Homo sapiens: one gene and its partners. The protein of the gene in region 2 purifies or fractionates together with the protein of the main gene of each other region. This does not show direct contact. Each region holds a gene or a part of one and is shown on either strand. Other genes may lie near its edges.

Evidence for each region.
Region 1: the proteins of RNF212 (region 2) and RPSA2 purify together in Homo sapiens (affinity purification with mass spectrometry; one large-scale study listed by BioGRID and IntAct). This does not show direct contact.
Region 3: the proteins of RNF212 (region 2) and SATB2 purify together in Homo sapiens (affinity purification with mass spectrometry; one large-scale study listed by BioGRID and IntAct). This does not show direct contact.

What each region holds. Positions count from the first base shown.
Region 1 is NC_000019.10:23,765,965-23,769,622, forward strand, and holds part of RPSA2 (small ribosomal subunit protein uS2B), read left to right. Parts: intron 1-3,658. UniProt on the Homo sapiens protein: Required for the assembly and/or stability of the 40S ribosomal subunit. Required for the processing of the 20S rRNA-precursor to mature 18S rRNA in a late step of the maturation of 40S ribosomal subunits. Also functions as a cell surface receptor for laminin.
Region 2 is NC_000004.12:1,073,199-1,075,649, reverse strand, and holds part of RNF212 (probable E3 SUMO-protein ligase RNF212), read left to right. Parts: intron 1-1,987; coding exon 1,988-2,051; intron 2,052-2,451. UniProt on the Homo sapiens protein: SUMO E3 ligase that acts as a regulator of crossing-over during meiosis: required to couple chromosome synapsis to the formation of crossover-specific recombination complexes.
Region 3 is NC_000002.12:199,451,369-199,455,026, forward strand, and holds part of SATB2 (DNA-binding protein SATB2), read right to left. Parts: intron 1-3,658. UniProt on the Homo sapiens protein: Binds to DNA, at nuclear matrix- or scaffold-associated regions. Thought to recognize the sugar-phosphate structure of double-stranded DNA.

The DNA of each region.
Region 1 (3,658 bases), on a different chromosome or scaffold from region 2:
ATACTTGTACATAAAAAGACATAAGGTATTGAGCTGTAAGGTAATAGTGATCAATTCTGCCACTAACATAGCAGTGGGAATATCAAGGAGGGCTTTATAGAAGAGGTGACATTTGAGTGGGTGTCATTGTTTAATAGAACTTTTTGTATTAATGTTGCTGGTGCGGATATTTCATTTCCTTTTTTTTTTTTTTTTTTTTTTTTTTTGAGATGGAGTCTCACTCTCTTTCCCAGGCTAGAGTGCAGTGGTGCAGTCTCGGCTCACTACAACCTCCACTTCCCAGGTTCGAGTGATTCTCCCACCGCAGCCTCCCGAGTAGCTGGGATTATAGGCATGAGCCACTGTGCCCAGCCTCAGAGTGTACCCTTTAAAAAATTATTTTAAAAAAATTTTACCTCTTGACTCTGAAATATATTGAGAGGTCTTCCCCCAATGAGATAAAAATGAACAAGTGTGTAAACAGTTAAGAAGTTTTTTCTCAAGCTAATTTTTTTTTTTTTTTTTTGAGACAGAGTCTTGCTCTGTCACCCAGGCTGGAGGGCAGTGGCGCGATCTCCCCGGCTCACTGCAAGCTCCGCCTCCCGGGTTCACGCCATTCTCCTGCCTCAGCCTTCCGAGTAGCTGGGACTACAGGCGCCCACCACCTTGCCCGGCTAATTTTTTGTATATTTAGTAGAGACAGGGTTTCACCGTGTTAGCCAGGATGGTCTTGATCTCCTGACCTCGTGATCCGCCCGCCTCGGCCTCCCAAAGTGCTGGGATTACAGGCCTGAGCCACCGTGCCGGGCCAAATGTTTTTTTTTTTTTTTTTGAGACGGAGTTTCGCTCTTGTTACCCAGGCTGGAGTGCAGTGTCGTTATCTTGGCTCACTACAATCTTCACCTCCTGGGTTCAACCAATTCTCCTACCTCAGCGTCCTGAGTAGCTGGGATTACAAGCGCCTGCTATCAAGGCCGGCTAATTTTTTGAATTTTTGTTTGTTTGCTTGTTTGTTTTGTGTTTTTGGGAGACAGAGTCTTGCTCTGTCATCCAGGCTGGAGTGCGGTGGCATGATCTCGGCTCACTGAAACCTCTGCCTCCCGGTTTCAAACCATTCTCCTGCCTCAGCCTCCTGAGTAGACAGGTGCGTGCCACCACGCCCAGCTAATTGTATTTTTAGTAGAGACGGGGTTTCGCCATGTTGCCCAGGCTGTTCTCGAACTCCTGACCTCAGATTATCCACCTGCCTCGCCCTCCCAAAGATTTGGGGTTACAGGCGTGAACCACGGTGCCCGGCCTAATTTTTTGTATTTTTAGTACATACGGGGTTTCATTATGTTTGCCAGGCTGGTCTCTAACTCATGACCTCAGGTGGTCCATCTGCCTGGGGCTCTCAAAGTGCAGGGATTACAGGTGTGAGCCACCACGCCTGGCCTCTCAACCTGATTTTTATTTTTAGTAGACACATTGGTGATGAGACAATCAAATGTTCGCATTGATGAGAAAAGGCAGAAATGATTTTTGTTCTCTGGATTCTTGAAATAAAATTTTTTCCAAAGGACAAGAAGATCCCATCCCAGTAAGGCAATGCAAGAACCTGCAAGCAAAATGTACCTGAGACTCACAGTGGGGTACAAAGTGTCTCCTGGGAAGGTGGTCACTGAGTAATTTAATAGGCAGGATGGGGATGACAGAATATTTTGAGTGATATTATGGTCTGACTTGACAGTGGAGTCAGACATGTTTGTGTCCCAATCAGCACTGCCACTTCCTGAGTTTGTCACCTTGGAAAGATTTTTTCACTTATTTCAATTTCAGTTTTTTTTTTTTTTTTTTTTTTTGAGACAGAGTCTAGCTCTGTCGCCCAGGCTGGAGTGCAGTGGTACAATCTTGGCTCACCACAACCTCCGCCTCCCGGGTTCAAGCTGTTCTCCTGCCTCAGCCTCCTGAGTAGCTGGGATTACAGGCGCCCACCAGCATGCCCAGCTAATTTTTCTATTTTTAGTAGAGACGGGGTTTCACTGTGTTGGCCAGGCTGGTCTGGAACTCCTGACCTTATGATCTGCCCACCTCAGCTTCCCAAAGTGCTGGGATTACAAGCGTGAGCCACCACGCCCGGCCCAATTTCAGTTTTTTAATAACTGTAAATTACATTTCATCAGAAGAGCTTAAAAGATGTTTAAAAAGTCAACGACTATGAAAGGTATATTTCAGAAAAATCTAGTGATATGTTTTATTTGTTAAATTTATGTTTTTTTCTGGTTGTGTAATTTTAAATAGAACCCCAGGGGTTTGCTTTGAGAATGCTACCAGAGAAGAGAAATAGGAAAAATCTTTTTTCCATTATGGCTATACAAAGTGAATACATTTCCACAAGCAAATATGATAGATTAATTGGTGCATTGTATATATTTCTCAAACCATCAGCTCCTCTTTTTTTCAAAGTCTAGAATTTGTAATGGTGGATATCTCTGTTCTGTATTCTGTTGTCTAGATATCCAAGTTTAATGCAAAATTTTATGACATGGAACTTGACACTTTCTAGAAATGTTCACATATGGTTGTTTATTAAATTATCTCTCATGGAAATATTTAAATGACATGTTTATTGTCTGAAAAGGACAGATATTTAAGCTTTTTTTTTTTTTTTTTCTTTTTTTTTGAGAAAGAGTCTCGTTCTTTTGCCCAGGCTGGAGTGCAGTGGTACAATCTTGGCTCACTACAACCTTCACCTCGCAGGTTCAAGCGATTCTCCTGCCTCAGCCTCCCTAGTAGCTGGGATTACAGGTACACACCACCAGGCCCATCTAATTTTTCTATATTTAGTAGAGACAGGGTTTCACCATGTTGGCCAGGCTGTTCTCAAACTCCTGACCTCAGCCAATCCGCCCGCCTCAACCTCTTAAAGTGATGGGATTACAGGTGTGAGCCATTGTGCTTGGCCCCCTTTAACTATTTTATGTGACTCTTCTCTCTTACCTGAACGTTGCCCAAAAAGAGATTGTGACATATATTTGGGCCCAGCACCAAGGTGATGTAACTCTCCTCTTCAGCCGGGCCTTGCCCACAGAAGAGAGAATGACTTATTCCTGAGTTTAGCATACAGGTGATTTGATTCTTCTGCTGACTCCCAGAAGTCACTGTAACATATATCTGGGTCCATCGCTGAGACTGTGTGACTCTCTTCTCCCTGGGACCTGTCCACAGTGGGGATTGTGACGTATTGCTTGGCCAAGCACCTACGTGATATGACTCTTTTCTTAGGCCTGGGCCCTACCCACTGGAGTGATTTTGACACATTGCTGGGCCTAGCTCAAAGGTTATATGTGACTTCACACTTCTTCCTGGGCCCTACCCATGAGGGGCACTGTGTCTTAACTCTGAGACACTTAATTAGGTGATGTGACTCTCTTTTTTCGAGATGGAGTCTGGCTCTGTCACCCAGGCTGGAGTGCAGTGGCAAAATCTTGGCTCACTGCAACCTCCACCTCCTGGGTTCAAGTGATTCAACTGCCTCAGCCTCATGAGTAGCTGGGATTATAGGCATGCACCGCCACAGTCAGCTACTTTTTGTATTTTTAGTAGAGATGAGGTTTCACCATGTTGGCCAGGCTGGTCTCAAATTCCTGACCTCAAGTGATCCACCTGCCTTGACCTCCCAAAGTGCTGGGATTACAGG
Region 2 (2,451 bases):
GTTTAGATATTTGTCCCTGCCCGAATCTCATGTGGAATTATAATCCCCAGTGCCCGAGGTGGGGCCTGGTAGCAGAAGTTTGGGTTATGGGGGCAGATCCCTGGTGGCTGGTGCTGTCTTTGCCATGGTGGGTGAGTTCTCACGAGATCTGGCTGGTTAAAAGTACATGGCACCACCCCCCAGTCTCTTGCCTGCTCGCCCTGCAACGCGCCTGCTCCCCCTTGGCCTCCCACCCTGATTGTAGCCTCCCAAGGCCTCCCCAGAAGCAGCTGTTGCCATGCTTCCTGTACGGCCCTCAGAAGCATGAGCCAGTTAAACCTCTTTTCTTTATGAATTACACAGTCTCTGGTATTTATCGCAGTGCAAGAATGGCCTAATACACCAGTTAAATGTGAAAACTGGTTTAAAGGAGAATCCAAAGAGCAAACATGCGTGTAGGCAGCCAAATGCAGATGTGAACACACCGATGCGTACACAGCCCCTCCCATGTGGCAGGAACCAGTGTCTTGCCCAGCCAAGTCTGCCATGGCCCATTTACAAGAAAGGTTTGCACCACTGTCTTCTGTAACTCACAGCTGTCAGACAGCACCAGGACGGGGAAAGACACCAGCACTTGAACGCTCTGCGGAGATTTTCTCTAAATGGAGCAGCAAATGGAATGTAGTTCGAAGGGACGGTGATGTCAAGGGGATTCTTAGGATGAACTTGATATTGAAGACATCCTAGCGGATGGAAGGATCCAGAAATGATGGCATAGCAGCACTCCAGGCAGGTGAAAGGAAGTACCTGGAGCCTGTCCTGATGAGGCAGGAATATGTCTGGTGTTCACAGGATGGCAGGCAGAGGCTGAAGGTACAGAGACAAAAGCTCCTGATTTCACAAGATTCTGTCTTCTTGGGGGTAGGAGTGAGGTCATGAGCTTCAGGTGGATGGGGAATGTGCTTAGTGGACAGCTCCATGAGAAAGCTGGCCTGCAGGCAGCTCAGAGGGCCATGCCAAGCAGGGGGGTCCGTCCTTCCAAGGTTAGAGTCTTGCCAGTGAGTAGGAGTGGAGGACTGGCAGGGTAGGGCCAAGGGTGTGGCAGAGAGAGTCCCTGGAGCAGGGCACTCCTGTGCTGGTAGAGAGACCATGAGGACACAGAGGGGCTTCCACGGTGTACTGGAAGGGCCTGTGGATTAAAGGATCTGTGGGGTGGCTGTGCCGGGGGCAGAAGCCAGGAAAGTGGGTAGCAGAGGTCTTGGCGGGGCACAGTTGATGGCGGCAGAGCCTGAGGACCAGCGGGGTGAGGCAAGGAGCCTGGGAACAGGAGATGCCAGCAGTGAGTGGAGAGCCAGAGGAGCGAGCCCAGGAAGGGGCAGCAACTAGAAGTAGCACCTTGCCATGCCCCCAGGTCGCACTGAGAGGCAGGAGGGGCTCAGAGCAGAGCAGCCTCCCTTACCAGTCTCAGAACCTGCGCTGGCAGCTCTGGGTTCACAGGTTCCTGTGGGTTGAGGAGGGATGGTGGCAGAAGCGGCCTCGTGGTTGCTGGATAGAGTGAAGGGTGGGCACAGAGCAGGGCCCAGCACACACAGCTCTGAGCAGCATTAGCTCCAACCTGTCCATCAGCATCTGGATTTCAAGGTGACAAAATTATGCACCCAAGAATGATTTACTCAGAATTTCACATTCTCTAACATCAGCTGCAAATTTTGTTTTTTTTCACCTAAAATTCCTAGTAGAGCCCTTTATCCGTTCACTGTTTTAGGCCCTGGTGGAACAGAGGGAATCAAACAGGTAATCAGGTAATACCCACCCACACCACCTCTACCACCAGCAGGCAGAGTCGGGAGGTGAACACAGAATCAAGTTAGACAGGAACTTGTCAGAGGGCGATAAAGATGAGGGAGATGGGGTTCTGGGAAATGTGTTCCTAACAGACAGTGGGAGTCCGAATCTCGTAAGCCGCAATATTGGAATTTTACCCATTGTTTTCTTGTTGCATTCTTAGTCTGAGATAGCAGCCGGCCCTGCGAGAATCTCCATGATTAGTCCACCTCAAGATGGACGAATGGGTAAGTAAAATGTCCTGTAACCTCAGACCGATACATGCATCGATTAAAATGCATTCCCTGAAAGGTCATGTTTAATCAAAGCTGTCAGAACCTACCCAAGGGGGTGCTGTCCTTCCACCCGGTGCATGGGAGGCTACATATTCACCAAAATGGTGCAGCTTTTGAGTCCTTCCAGGGAGAAGCTCCTGATGACCGTGTAACAAGTCACAGGAGATAACTGGCTCCTTTGCATTCTATGTCCTCTTGGTTTTAAACAAAAATAGTGTCACTGGGTTTGCTTCCTGGTAATTGGCTTTGAATTGCTGGTCCCTTTTCAAAGTGAATCCCTCCCTCACCCTCAGCACACATCCACCTCAGCCCACACAGGCCATCTCCCCACACGCTGTCTCCTGCATCTTCC
Region 3 (3,658 bases), on a different chromosome or scaffold from region 2:
AGCAAAACTACAGAGGACAGGCTAGATTGTTGGATGACCCCAAAGCCTAAGTTCATTCTATTTAAAAGATCTTAAAACCTTAAAAAAAAAAAAAAAAAGTGAGGAGGGAGAAATACAATCTTTTCTCTTTTGAAGTAATGTGTACTTCCTACAAATATTATGATATTCATCCTTGGGAATGGAGTTTTCTCCATTTTGCCCATGTTAACAATATATTTCTAAGTATTTTATAATCTCAATATATACCTATCTATACTTTCATATCTGCATTCCTTTCAAAAAGTTAAATGTCTCTCTACTGTTGCTGATATGGTGACTACACCTGACCCGAACTGCATTTCTTTTCATCTAAAAGGAAGTGTTCCACATGTAGACAATTAAACTAACTGTTGTTGTAGACAATGTTCAGCTTTAAATGAGGCCCTGACTAACAATCTTGATCACATTTGCTTCCCTATTTGAATACATCAGTGTGTACTGCATAATGATTTTTTTCCCCCTTGCAACAAGACAGTTATGTTCTTGAAAGGGCTGCCTGGTAGCACGAATAGGTCTACTTCAGGTAGACTAGTTATAAGATAACTTTAACAGACAGTATGCCAACAAAATTAAATTGTTATTTATAAAACATAAATTATTTTTCAGAAATAAGCAAGTTTTTTTAATAAAAAAAGCAAATCTCTCTAAAAGATATTTTCAATGTTTAAATATTTTTCCCTAAAATGTAGAACATTTAACACCAAAAAATCATAAAAATTCATAGGAAAATGAAAAATATCAAAAAGATTTCTGATGTTTAATGTCTCCTATCAGCAAATACACCATCTGGTATATTCAAGCGCTGTTCATTCAGTTTAAATAAAGCTGTCTGAAAGTTCTTCTTTAAGCCAAACATTAAAAAATGAAAATGCTTGTGTTAACAATGAATGAAGCACAATAATTTATTGCTATTAAAGCACAACTGGCCAGCACCTTTCAGCAGTCCAGGAGAAAAGCAGAATGCCTTGCTTCCTCTGGAAACTTGATTGGCATCACTTTCATTTTATGCTGTAAGTTGCATGGCTGAAGCATTCCATACAGCAGAACATTTTAGGTACTTATGCTAATAGTGGTAAAAAGGATCATCTGATTCTTATTTTCATCATCCTTAATAATCCCTTCTTTTCCTAAATCTTCAAATAGATCTGTAAGTTTTAATCAACAATTTCACAAATATAAATTTCCCCACCATTAATCATCCTTTTTCAAAATCCTTATGGAGTGAATTACTAGCTGAGAGGGGACGCCAATTCTAGTAAGTGAATGTTACCCAGCAGGGATATAAAGCTGTCAACACCATGGTGCTCTTGCTAGCTCTAAACTCTCTCCTAGCCTTCATATGTTTTTTAAAGAGATATTAGCCTTTTTTTTTTCCTAAGGACCGTCTGTAAAAGCTGACTGACATACACATCTGAGCACTTACATTTTATTACATACATGCTTTAAAACACACTGCTCAGATAAGAGTAAAAACATCCCAGAAAGTGTTGGAAAGACAAAGCAAAACATCTAGTTTCTAACAGTCTTCTAAAGCTAACCACATAGTAAACAATCCACTTTTAAGTCCCCTGTTAAAACACAACCTTAAAGACAGTGACAGTGTATCTACCCTCTCTTCTATTTAAATTGAGACACTAAAGTAATGCCCCTTCTTTTATGAATACTTAGTTCTCATCAAAAAACACAGTAAATTCCCTCTACCTAAATAAGTAGAGTAACAGCAGAATTTATTACTGCAACCAATGCATTCAGAAGTATATTTAAACTATATTTACCTCACTGCTTATCAAAAACAGTAAGATAAATTGCTATTTGATTTGACAACCAATTAACTTGATCTCCCTTATTTTTAAAAGAACAGCTTTTAAGAAAGAGGAACACTAAAGATTAACAAATATGTACTCCCAAATTTTTGGCTCCACTTTTAAGACAAATTTTATTGTATCCATCATTACACCATTGAAAAGACTGCAATATATCTGAAAACGGTAATAAATGATACAGAGCTATAAATACTTGTGTAGTTATCTATGCTTATTATATTGCTTTATAAAGAAAATTTAAACAAAAGAACATAGAATGGTAGAAATATAATCTACTTTATATTTACTCTATGTTCAAAAAAATCCTTTAATTATAAAAAAACTAACTAGAAATGTATTTTAAACATTTTTTAAAATTTAGAATGTGCATTTTTCAAAAGGCCTGGCTTTGCTCCAAACTGTATACATGGTTAACAGTTACAAAGAAACTATTAACATCTTAACATACATTTGGAAATTATATAAACTTAAACTCATAATTTTGTTAACATTCAATTAGAAACCTTTGTACTATCAAAATCTTATCTTCTAAGTTGTTATATTCTAAAGTTGTCTAAATTAATCTCTTTACACACTATTATGCTGTCTTTTTTAAAAAAATTTAAATTCCACTAAACAATTTTAACCAGTTTACTATCGTGTATTATAAACGATATGTATTGAGACAAAATAATGTCATCTTTATTTTCAATTTGGGAAGCAGCTAATAAGACCTCTGCTATTACTAAATTAAGTTAATCAAGAGAAAGTGTCTAAGGCAGCTGGTTGAAACAAATCTATTATTCTTCACCAAGATAATAATTTTAGTTTATATTAAACACATAAGGGCTCAAATGTGAACTATAGTCTCAGAAAATTTGAAAACCAACCACTATTTAACACTAAAGTTATCCCTGGTCAACAGAACAAGGCACTTTCTTTCATAGTTCAACATGATATAGAGGAGGGGAAAAAACTTGTTTTAGGGAAGCACGTTGTTAACAATTACATTCTAAAATGTTTACAGCTCCTTTCAATTTAGTGAATTTTATTAGATCTTCAGAAAGATACCAAAATTTTAAGTCCAAGCCTTTTCTGTCCACAAAGGCCACTTTGGAACACACTGTCTCCAAGGAGTTTCAGAACTTTTTCAAACATTTTCAGCACTTAGCATATCTCATAATTGGTACCATCATACTCTATGAATTTTTATTTCTTATATGCATATACTAACTGATTATGCCAAAAGTCTGACATTATTTGCTCCAGTATCAGGACAACAAATTAATAAACCTCTCTTTTAAAAAGTGGGTCACAGAACTGTTTTCTTTTGCTTCAATAAAGTATATTTTCAAGTCCCAAAAAGGGGAGATAAACAAGCCAGAATCCATCACCAAACTTTTTAACTCACAACATTGAAAGGATGAATACTTCTCAAGTGAGACGATTAATATGAAAGACTGAGACAAACCATCCTAAGTATTTACCATGAAGAAATAGAAATAGCAAAATAAGTAAAAAGAAAAAAATACGATTTTATAAAACGTATGTGTTCAACTCTTTAAGGAGGAATGAACATTTTTAGATGTAAGTAACTATTTTGAAATACACACAATAGACACTTACAACAAGGGGGTGGGAGCTTATCATTAAGGTTTGCCAAGGTTTTATATCATTTAAGACAAGTTAATATATTGAATATTAAATGGGCTACTGTTGAAATTATTAGAGAAAAAACGTTAGAGGCAAAAAAAATTAAACTAGTGATTTATGCCAAACACACAGAAAACCTGCATGCCATGTGGAATTGTGGATTT